Regions from separate parts of the Homo sapiens genome. Here region 2 is linked to region 1. The links come from fine-mapping of genetic effects on gene expression. Tissue or cell type: whole blood. Region 1 holds a variant in brackets; the other region holds the start of a gene. All regions are shown on one strand. Distances are from middle to middle.

Region 1 (5,753 bases):
TGCTTTCCAAGCGGCAAATATTCACAGGGGAGAAGTCACTCCAAAGGCCAGGCTGGCTTCTCAGGGCTTCCCTCCTGTCTGTGATGGAAGCCCCATCACGTGACCGGGCGCGGCGGCTCACGCCTGTAATCCCAGCACTCTGGGAGGCCGAGGCGGGCAGATCACGAGGTCAGGAGATCGAGACCATCCTGGCTAACACGGTGAAACCCCGTCTCTACTGAAAATACAAAATTAGCCGGGCATGGTGGTGCATGCCTGTAATCCCAGCTACTCCGGAGGCTGAGGCAGGAGAATCGCTTGAACCTGGGAGGCGGAGGGAGGTTGCAGTGAGCTGAGATCACGCCACTGCACTACAGTCTGGGCTCGAAACTCCATCTCAAAAAAAAAAAAAAAAGAAGCCCCATCAACGTCTTGGCTGCCTTAAGAGCTCCTTAATTCCTTCAAAAATATATGTTTTCTGTTTTGACTGACTTTTCTACGTTTCTTTAGCAAGATAATTGGTCTGAAATCAGCTATTTGACAATTTCTAGGATAATTTTTAAAATTTTTCATTTTCTGGGCCAGGCGCAGTGGCTCATGCCTGTAATCCCAGCACTTTGGGAGGCCGAGGCAGGCAGATCACGAGGTCAGGAGATCGAGACCATCCTGGCGAACACGGTGAAACCCCGTCTCTACTAAAAATACAAAAAAATTAGCCGGGCGTGGTGGCGGGCGCCTGTAGTCCCAGCTACTCGGGAGGCTGAGGCAGGAGCATGGCGTGAACCCAGGAGGAGGAGCTTGCAGTGAGCCGAGATCGCCCCACTGCACTCCAGCCTGGGTGATAGAGCAAGACTCTGTGCAAAAAAAAATTTCTTTTTCTTTTTTTTCCTCTCATGAACTCTGCTACAAGAGAAGGTTTTGAGTATATTTGATTTCCCTCAACATTTTTTTTTTTTTTTTTGAGACAAGCTCTCACTCTCTGTCACCCAGGCTGGAGTGCAGTGGCCTGATCTCAGCTCACTGCAACCTCCGCCTCCCGGTTTCAAGCGATTCTCCCGCCTCTGCCTCCAGAGTAACTGGGATTACAGGTGCCCGCCACCACGCCTGGCTAAATTTTTTTATTTTTTAGAAGAGACGGGGTTTCACCATGTTGCCCAGGCTGGTCTTGAATTCCTGAGCTCAAGTTAATCCTCCTGCCTCGCCCTTCCAAAGTGCTTGGATTACAGGTATGAGCCACCGCACCTGGCCGGATTTCCCTCTACTTTGATAGAAATATATGATTATGGACGGGCACGGTGGCTCACACCTGTAATCCCAGCACTTTGGGAGGCCAAGGCGGGCAGATCATGAGGTCAGGAGATAGAGACCATCCTGGCTAACATGGTGAAGCCCCGTCTCTACTAAAAATACAAAAAATTAGCCGGGCATGGTGGCAGGCGCCTGTAGTCCCAGCTACTCGGGAGACTGAGGCAGGAGAATGGCGTGAACGTGGGAGGAGCTTGCAGTGAGCTGAGATCGCGCCACTGCACTCCAGCCTGGGTGACAGAGCGAGACTTTGTCTCAAAAAAAAAGAAAAGAAAGAAATATATGATCATATAAAAACAAAATGAAAAACTAAAGAGTATTATTTCTAGTAAAATAAAAACTGTTAAAATTTGGGTCTATTTTCAGTTTGATACTATTTTCTGTTTATGTAACTTAAATCACTTTAGTTTTCAGAAAATATATCCAGAAAAAAATTATTTTCTTCAATTTATTGAGGCATAATTGACAGAAAATTGTATCTATTTAAGGTGTACAACTGATGATTTCACATATGTTAACACTTTAAAATGATTACCCTGGCCAGCCCTGGTGGCTCACACCTGTAATCCCGGCACTTTGGGAGGCCACAGCGGGAGGATTACTTGAGGCCAGGAGTTTGAGATCAGCCTGGGCAACACAGCGAAACCCCATCTCTCCAAAAAAATACAAAAAATTAGCCAGGTGTGGTGGCATGTGCCTTTAATCCCAGCTACTACTCAGGAAGCTGAGATGGGAGAATTGCTTGAACCTGGGAGGCAGAAGTTGCAGTTAGCTGAGATGGTGCCACTGCACTCCAGCGTGGGTGACAAAATGAGACTCTAAGTAAATAAATAATAAAATAAAGTTATTACCATGATAAAGTTAATTAGCATGCTGCATTAGTCTGTTTCGCATGGCTGTAAAGGAATACCTGAGGATGGGTAATTTATACAGAAAACAGGTTATTTGGCCCACAGTTCTGCAGCCTGCACTAACACGGCACCAGTAACTGCTGGGAGTCCGGGGAGGCCTCAGGAAGGCTTTACTGTTGGTGGAAGGCAAAAAGGGAGCAGGCATGTCACATGGCAAGAGAGGAGGCAAGAGAGAGATGCCAGGCCCTTTTAAACAATCAGATCTCTTGGTAACTAATAGAGTAAGAACTCACTCATGACCTCAAGGACAGCACCAAGCCATTAATGAGGGATCCACGCCCATGACCCAAACACCTACTAGCCCTTACCTTCAACACTGGGGATTGCATTTCACATTATGAGATTTGGAGGCAAATATCCAAACCACAGCACTTACCCAATACTTCCCACACTTACCCCCTCCCTTTTTCGGTGAGAACACTTCAGATCTACTCTCTTAGCAAGCTTCAGTATAAAATATAGTATTATTAACTATGCTCACCGTGCTGTACATTAGATCTTTAGAATTCCTTCATCTTATAACTGAAAGTTTGTACACTTTGATCAAGATCTCTCCATTTCCTCCCCCACCTCCCTTCCCGGCAACCACCAGGTTGCTCTGCTCTCTGCTTCTATGAGTTGGAAATGTTTCTTCTTTTTAGATTCCATATATAAGTGATACCATACAGTATTTGTCTGTCTCTGTCACACTTCACTGAGTATAGTGCCCTCTAGGTTCATTTATGTTGTTGATAGGCAGGACTTCTTTTTTAAAGTGGCTGAATAATATTCCGCTGTGTGTGTATGTGTGTCAAGTTTTCTTTTTATCCATTCACCTGTCAGTGGACACTTAGATTGTTTCCGTATCTTTGCTACTGTGAATAGTGCTGCAATGAACGTGAGATGCAGATCTCTCTTCCAGATCCTGGA[T/C]ACATACCCAGAAGTGGCACTGTTGAATTATGTGGTAGTTCTATTTTTAATTTTTTTGAGTAAACTCCATACTGTTTTCCAGTGAAATAAGACAGTCAAAGAGGTTTTTCCATATCTTGGTACCAGGAGCTTTAACTCAGGTCCAACTCACCGTGGGCCCAGCGGGTCCCGGAACCCATTCTCTGGTCATTTCCCGGGTCCAGATGTGTAGTTGGAACAGACGTGTTCAGCAGCTAGCAGAGTTTCCACACGGGTTCCCTGAGCTATAAAGTGAGGGCAATTGTGATGGGAAAGGACAAATGGAAGGCGTTACAGCCATCTCTACCTAGAAAAATACTAAAACAAAAAACACACCAATACTGCCTTCCTGGAGGAATGATATAGATGAGTGCCATCATCAAAGACTTGAAGTATGGAGGGGTGGTGATTCCTACCCCACATCCTTGTCCAACTCTCCTGGCCTGTGCAGAAGACAGATGAATCCTGGAGAATGATGGTGGATTCCCAGAAGCTTAACCAAGTGATAACTCTAATTGCAGTTGCTGTACCAGATGCTGTTTCATTGCTTGAGCAAATTAACACATATCCTGGTACATGGTATGTAACTATTGATCTGACACACACCTTTTTCTCCATCCCTGTCCAGAAGGCCCACCTGAAGCAGTTTGCCTTCAGCTGGCCAGGGACACCTTCACTGTCCTCCCTCAGTTTAGATCAACTCTCCAGCCCCATGTCACAGTGTGAACCCAGGAGGCAGAGCTTGCAGTGAGCCGAGATCGCGCCACTGCACTCCAGCCTGGGTGACAGAGCGAGACTGCGTCTCAAAAAAAGGTATCGATTTTAAAACTTGATTTTTTATATATGTATATATTGTGCAATGAGCACCATAGTCAAGTCAGTTAACATATTTATCGCCTCACATAGTTAACCTTTGTGTGTGTGTGTAAGATGAGAACACTTAAGATCTACCCTCTAAACAAATTTCAGGTATAAAATACAATAGTGTTAACTATAGTCACCATGCTGTACATTCCATCTCCAGAACTTACTCATCTTGAGTAACCGGAAATTTACACTCATGACCAGCATCCCCCCATCCCCCCACTTCTCCCTCCCTCCAGCCCTGGAAACCACCATTCTACTCTCTTCTATGAGTCTGACTATTTTAGATTCCACATATAAGTGAGAGCATGCAGTATTTATCTTCCTGTGGCTAGCTTATTTCACTTGCAAATGGACTTTATGAAGCTAGTATTATCCTGATACCAAAACCAGAAAAAGACAGTACAACAAAACTGTAAAACAGCATCTTTCTTGAATACTGATGCAGAAATCATTAATAAAACATTACTAATACATCAATAATAGATGAAAAAATTATATGATGGACAATTGATGTACTCCAGAGATATGAGGCTGGTTCAATGTTTGAAAAATCAATCAAAGAACAAAGTAGGAAGAATTAATTTATATGATTTAATAACTTATACAGCTATAGTAAACAAGGGTGTGTGATATTAGCAGAGTGCAGACCAATGGAACAAGGTAGAGAACCCATGACAAGAACCACACAAATATGCCCACCTAATTTGTCACAAAAATGCAAAAGAAATTCAACGCAGAAAAGATAGCCTCTTCAGAGAAGAGCAACTGGACATTCACAGGCACATACACACAAAATGAACCTTAACCTAAACTTCACAAACCTTAATCACAATTTAACTCAAATGTACCAGGGACTTAAATGCAAAATGTAAAACTATAAAACTTTAAGAAAAATATAGGAAAAAGTCAGCCGGGCACAGTGGCTCAAGCCTGTAATCCCAGCACTTTGGGAGGCCGAGGCAGGTGGATCACGAGGTCAGGAGGTCAAGACCATCCAGGCTAACACGGCGAAACCCCGTCTCTACTAAAAATACAAAAAATTAGCCAGGCGTGGTGGCGGGCGCCTGTAGTCCCAGCTACTCGGGAGGCTGAGGCAGGAGAATGGCGTGAACCCAGGAGGCGGAGCTTGCAGTGAGCCAAGATCATGCCACTGCACCACTCCAGCCTGGGAGACAGAGCAAGACTCCATCTCAAAAAAAAAAAAAAAAAAGAAAGAAAAGAAAAAGAAAAAGAAAAATATAGGAAAAAGTCTTCAGGATCTAGGACTAACCAAAGGGTTCTTAGATTTGACACCCAAAGCACTACCCATTAAAATGTTGGTAAATTGTACCTCACAAAGTCTTTTCTCTGTGAAAGCCCATAAGAAGGGCATGAAAAGACAAGCTACAAACAGGGAGAAAGTATCTGCAACACCCATATCCCATAAAACGAATATCTAGAATATATTTTAAAAAACTCTCAAATAATAACAGTAAAAACAAAAATCCAATTAGAAAATGGCCAAAACCATGAAGAGCCATGTCACTGCAGAGGATATGCAGATGGCAAATAGGCATACAACATGCTCCGTATCATCAGCCGCCAGGGAACTGAAAATGGAAGCCATAAGTAGATATCACCGCTTTGTCATGCTGTGCAGAGGGGCCCTGGGCAGAGGCCAGTCCCATCATTCTAAGCTCTGCTAAGGCCCTCTGCGATGGACACTCTGAAGGCCATTCTATTCGCCTTTTAATGAATAGTGACAAAACAAAATGCTGGTGAGGA
Region 2 (5,753 bases), 62 kb before region 1:
GAGTAACTCTGAAAAAGAACTCAACCTACAAGGATGCACACTGAAGCATGGTCACAGTGAAAGCAAACGATAACGGTGACAGCTGACTTTATTTACAAACTCCAGTGCATAACCTGGGTTCCTTCCAGGCTCAGCATCTGCGCTCAAACAATATAACCCCTATCTGTCTCTCCCCATCTTAATTATTTTCCAAAACAGTTAAGTTTTAACAGTCAGGTCCAAATTCTCCTAAACAGGGTGAGTTTAAATGGTAAAAAGAGAAGAATTTCACAATTCAGCAAGGAGCTGAAAAAAGCTAAAATGGAGTAAAACCCACTCAGTTAACCTCATTCAGCTTGCCCAAATGACTAATAAGCAAACAAATGCAAGCAGAAATTTAAATGATTTTAAATGGATTAAAGGTTTTGGAGTGAGGCAGCTTCAATTCTTCTGGGAGGTATTCCACAAGAAAGTATGTGTCACGCCATCAGAGTCTGATTGCCACCAGATAGTCAGATATTTTAATTCACTCTCTTGCTGATTCTAATTCTATACCCATCAAGCATCCTTCTAAGGTGGCTCTCAGCTCACTTTACAGAGGAAGAGAAGGCACTGATCAGGCCAAACAGCAATTCTAAAACTCTTGTTAGCGTCTCAATGGAAGTGAGCATTCCGGTTTGATACAAATGGAGTCACTTCCATATGGGAACGTGACATGAATAACAGCACACATTTACTTGAGGCAAAAGGCCAAAACACAAACTTTCTTCATTAGAGCTATCAAGAAAAATTTATGGCTGGACGCAGTGGCGCCTCATCCCTTGAGCCCAGGAATTCGAGACTGGCCTGGGCAACACGGCGAAACCCTGCCTTTACAAAAAATACAAAAAATTAGCCGCACATGGTGACTCGAGCCTGTAGTCCCACCTACTGGGACAATCACTGGAGCCCAAGGAAGTCAAGGCTGCAGTGAGCCATGATCACGCCATTGCATACCAGTATGGGCGACAGTGAGACCCTGTCTCAAAAAAAAAAAAAAAAAAAAAAAGAAAATGTGTATTTCAAGTGCAGTTCTTCTGAAGCGTTCCGTCAAATACCAAAGTTGTATTTTAACCACATCAGGAACTCAGCTTGGTTAAGCATTTTTAAATCATAGCAAGCAAAATCACATCTGATGACCGAGCGTTATTATTATGACCCTCCATTACTATGAAGTTTTTTTCAAGACTTATGTATCTTCTTCAGTTTTGTTTTTTCCTCTTCTACTGTAAGTCTGCTTACAACCAGCTAACCTCCAGCAAAACAGAACTCTCAAATTATCAGTTAATATGCAAACATTAAAATAAGAACGAGCTCCGTTGTGAGAGTCCAAAATTCTTCTCAAGTTCACTACTTCAAATGTAATTCAGCTGTTAGTCCCAGCCTCTGACCTCCCCCACTCACCCTGCAATGTTCAAAAATATTTTATCTGGAGGCACAAAGATCACCCGACCCACGTTCTACGTGGTAAGGTTCCTTCGCATACATAAAAAAGAAAAGCTATCTAGAATCATGACACTGCCTCTAATAAAGCATCCCACATGCTAGAGTAGGTATCTTTCAAAAAATAATGACACAATGGATCTCATATGTAGATCCATCGCCACTGCCCTTAAGATCCTGTAGTTCTTGACAACTTTACGCTACGTACATGGCTTAAAAACATCGAAACAGGTTATAAGTTTAGGATTGGATGGCTCCAAGAGGACTGCATTTAATGGGTTACAAGCCTGTAGGGGTGTGTAAAAAGCACAATCGCACAGGACAGCTATGAGGCAAGACAAAGTGGCTGGCGAGTTCAGTTTGCGGGGCGGTTTCCTAAGGATCGGATAAGCCTATCTGGACTATTTAGGCAACCAGGGATAATAAGATGCAAAACCACCAGAAACGCAGGTTCGCTGCAACAATGTTGTGTTCAGCATAGCACAGAGGACTAGCCTCCGCAAATTTCCACCTCTCACAAGCAGCTACTGCCCTCAACCACCTGGATTTGCACGGACGCCCGGTCCCCACCTCCCGGCTCCTGGGCACCCGGCCAGTGCCTTTGGCGCACTCAAGACAGGGGCAAATGCTTGACTCTGGAAAACCCCCGAAACGCTACAAACGGCCCAGGCCAGGAATCCAGGGGAAGACTTGATCTCCGACAACACGAATGCCAGAGACGGCTCTCGAAGGGTCTCCCGACAGGTCCTAGCGCCCGCCGGCTGGAAGAGGTCCCGACAGGGTTAACCAACAGCCGCGCTCGCCAGGCAGCAGGGGACCGCGAGCCCACGGCCTCCGGAGCCGCGACGCGAGCGGCCAGGGCCCTCAGAGAAGGGTCAGCGGCAGAACCGCGACGCCCGAGCAACTTTCGGTGCTGCCGGCGTGCACCAGCCGAGCAGCGCCTCGCAGAACTCCCAACTCAGCTCCAGAAGCCCAGGCCCCTAACGCGGTCGTTTCTCCGACACCTGGCTCGGAGACCTAAAGACCGACAGCCGCCTGTCCCAGCACACACCATCTGCAACCCTACCTCCGCAAAAGCAAATGGCCCTTCGGCCGAGAAATGTCGCCAAACTGCCGTCTTCCCTCCTCGGCCGCTGCGACAAACACCCCACAAAATGGCGGCAGCGCCGTCGCCCTAGAATCCCCCGAGTCGCCTCTAGCACCACCTACGCCGCGCGAACGCGCCTGCGTGACAGAACCTTGCGCGCTCCCGCCGCTCCACCTAAGGGCGGGGCTCCACGTGACGTAAGAGCGGGGCTCGAGCCTCCACACTGCGGCTGCGCGGCCCAAGCATTTCCACCCCCCCCCCCCCGCCCACCCGGTCCCGGGGCCTCTAGGCCGGGAGGGTGTTTACGTTCTCTACGGGCTCGGGTGGAACCGGGAAGGAACGCCCGTGTCCCGCCCTCAGTGTGTACCGCGTGTCTGCCCCCTCCCCCGGGACCTCAACTCCCGCAGCCGGCACCCGACAACGGCCCCAAAACCGCCTAGGGCGGGCCTTGGCTGGTCCCTGGGCTGTTCCCTGGACTGGGTGCTTGTCCTGCCCACTTGGCGCTTCCAGTCTAAGGTGGATTCGGACAAAGAGGCTGTCTCAGAAAACAAGCTCAAGGGGTGCTAATCTTTTCAAGGCACGTGCTCCTATTCAGAACAAAACAAAAACCCGGAGGTTTCAATGGAGACTCCTGACAAGGTTTTCCTGTTAGGATCCCTACCTCCTGAGCAGTTAAGGTCGCTGGAAGTTTCCCTAACGAAGTTTTCCCCATTTTTTTTTGTCCCTGCGGGCTGATTTTATTCAAGGCTGAAAAATGTCTCTGAGCTAGTGATAGTCCGTTATGGGGCTTGCTTACCTCAAATAAGGTATTCTGCAGTTCTGAGGACCCTCAGGCAGTTCCCCCGTGTAAGTATGTAACATGAGAAATATTAGGGTCAAAGTCGGAGCCCTGTGGGGAACACTCAAGGGCCAGAGGGAAAGGGGCCTGAGAAGGAATGATCAGCAGAGGAGGAGAACCAAGAATAGGGTGTCAAAGCAAGGAAGGGCGTAAGTGAGGGAAAGGGTTTAGGTGAGACTGAAGATCGTGGGGGGGGACGGCGGGCGGGGTGGGGGTTGGCTTCTGTATTCTGACGGGGATTCGCTGGATAAAAGGGAAAGCTAGAAATCAAATTTGGGAGGGTAGGGTTGAACTCTTGCGGGTATTAGCCCAGTAGCATGTGGGAGACCTGTTATCCTGTTAGGTGAAAGGAGGGAACGGAAATACCTTTAGTGATCTAACATGATAGAAACTTGTGCCATCTGGTTTGGGTAAGTAGGGTAAATTTAGATAAATCTCGGAGATTGTACAGCATTTCAAAAAGTAAGTTGAATTTTCATGGAGATTGCACTCCAAGAAGCGAAGTTGAAAAGAAACTTGGAAAACTGGAAGGGTAAACTCTTTATGCTACAGAATGAAACAAATGATATTATTTTCATCTAGAATAGCCACCATTTTTGCATCTACAAATTTAAATCTTACTCATCCTTGAAAGGCCATTTCTTTAAGATGCTGTCTCTGACATGAGTTCCCACCCATTTCCCGGCTCCTGACTACTCCAGTTAGATGTGAAGTCCTCAAATAGTGGAGTATTTGGAGCCACCTGGTATGCTAACAGATTTTGCCCAAAGAGTGAAATGTATTGGTTCTACAATTGATTACACATCCCGTCTCAAGGGAATCTATTAGATAGAATGTTGAGCTGACTGGTCTGGGCGATAATACAAGGTAGAGTGGGGCTCAAATTGCAGCATATGAGAATGTAAATTCAAGCTGGCACCAAAGAATGTTCTCCTGTTTCATGGAGTAGGAGAGATCCTGCCTCCTGGGGTTATAAGAAAGTGTGGTCAGGACAGCCCACAATTCTGCTCAAAAAAGCAACACTATGTTAAAAAGCAGCCACTTGAAATGCCACCTACAGAGGCCTTTATATTATAGACGTCACACACACTGTTACCCAATAGTAGAGTCTGCTTTGTAATTACATTCATCTCGCTTTAGTGTTTTAATTTGTATGCCACCAAAAGGTCTAATGTTTAAAAGTGTGTAGTGATCAGAAGGAAGCTGAGAATGACTAGCACCTCTATGCTATGTGATGCAGCACTATGGTGCCCCTAGTCACTCTCTGTGGCTTTGTGCTGAGTTTGGAGACAAGGACCTGATTTATATTGTCTTTGGTATCTCAGGCCTAGAACCCAGTAAATATTTGTAGGTTGTTTACATAAGCTGCTTTGGGCCATTTTGCTCAGTTGGTTTAAGGTCAAAGTGAGTAAGTTAAAGGTAGACATTTCATCCCAGCATCACTGCACCAGTTAGCTTACCACCCTTTCGTGGCAGCCTCAACCCTTCCTATTAAGTCAGTTACCTGGCAAGACTTAATGAAAAGGTTTATCTAAATTTCTGAGAATCTACTACCAATACCAGAAACACTGCCTAATCCAGTGGTTTCATCTCTACACAAGAACAGTATGTCCAAAAAAACCTTTGAGTTAACTGATGTGTCCAAGCAGCTAGTCAAAGGCTGGGCACAGTGGCTCACGCCTGTAATCTCAGGTTGCAGGCAGAGGTGGGTGGATCACTTGAGCCTGGGATTTCAAGACTAGCCTGGCCAACATGGTGAAATCCCATCTCTACAAAAAATACAGAAAAAAAATTGGCTGGACATGGTGGTGCATGGCTGTGGTCCCAGCTACTCGGGAGGCTGAGGTGGGAGGATGGTTTGAGCCCAGGAGGCAGAGGTTGCAGTGAGCCAAGATCGTGCAACTGCACTCCAGCCTGGGTGACAGAGCCAAACCCTGTCTCAAAAGCAAAAACAAAAAGAACTAGTTTAAGAATTTTTTTGGCTGGGCACGGTGGCTCACGCCTGTAATCCCAGCACTTTGGGAGACCGAGGCAGGCGGATCATGAGGTCAGGAGTTCGAGACCAGCCTGGCCAATATGGTGAAACCCCGTCTCTACTAAAAATACAAAAATTAGCTGGGCATGGTGGCGGGTGCCTGTACCCCCAGCTACTTAGGAGGCTGAGGCAGAAGAATCGCTTGAACCCAGGAGGCGGGGCTGCAGTGAGCTGAGATCGTGCCGCTGCACTCCAGCCTGGGTAACAGTAAGACTCTGTCTCAAAAAAAAAAAAAAAAGAAATTTTTAGCTTTGAAGAGCAACCAAAGGAATATTCTTATCACATATTCTAGGATATGTATACGACATGCTTAACTTCAGACATCAAAAACA

What was found. PIP is the estimated chance that this variant, and not a neighbour inherited with it, causes the effect.
Region 2: it holds the start of CLK4, and the variant in region 1 is fine-mapped to the expression of CLK4 in whole blood (TOPMed, PIP 0.99).

The regions. Positions count from the first base shown.
Region 1 is chr5:178,686,238-178,691,990 of GRCh38, forward strand. It overlaps a transcript of MSANTD5 not described here. Among named protein-coding and RNA genes, the nearest start is that of MSANTD5, 8.6 kb to the right of the region's middle. The variant T/C (reference allele first, on the strand shown) is at 3,105.
Region 2 is chr5:178,624,419-178,630,171 of GRCh38, forward strand. CLK4 (CDC like kinase 4) reads right to left here and starts at 2,632. Exons shown (of 13, transcript NM_020666.3): 1 at 2,528-2,632. RefSeq lists enhancers at 1,578-2,258, 1,991-2,600, 5,668-5,753.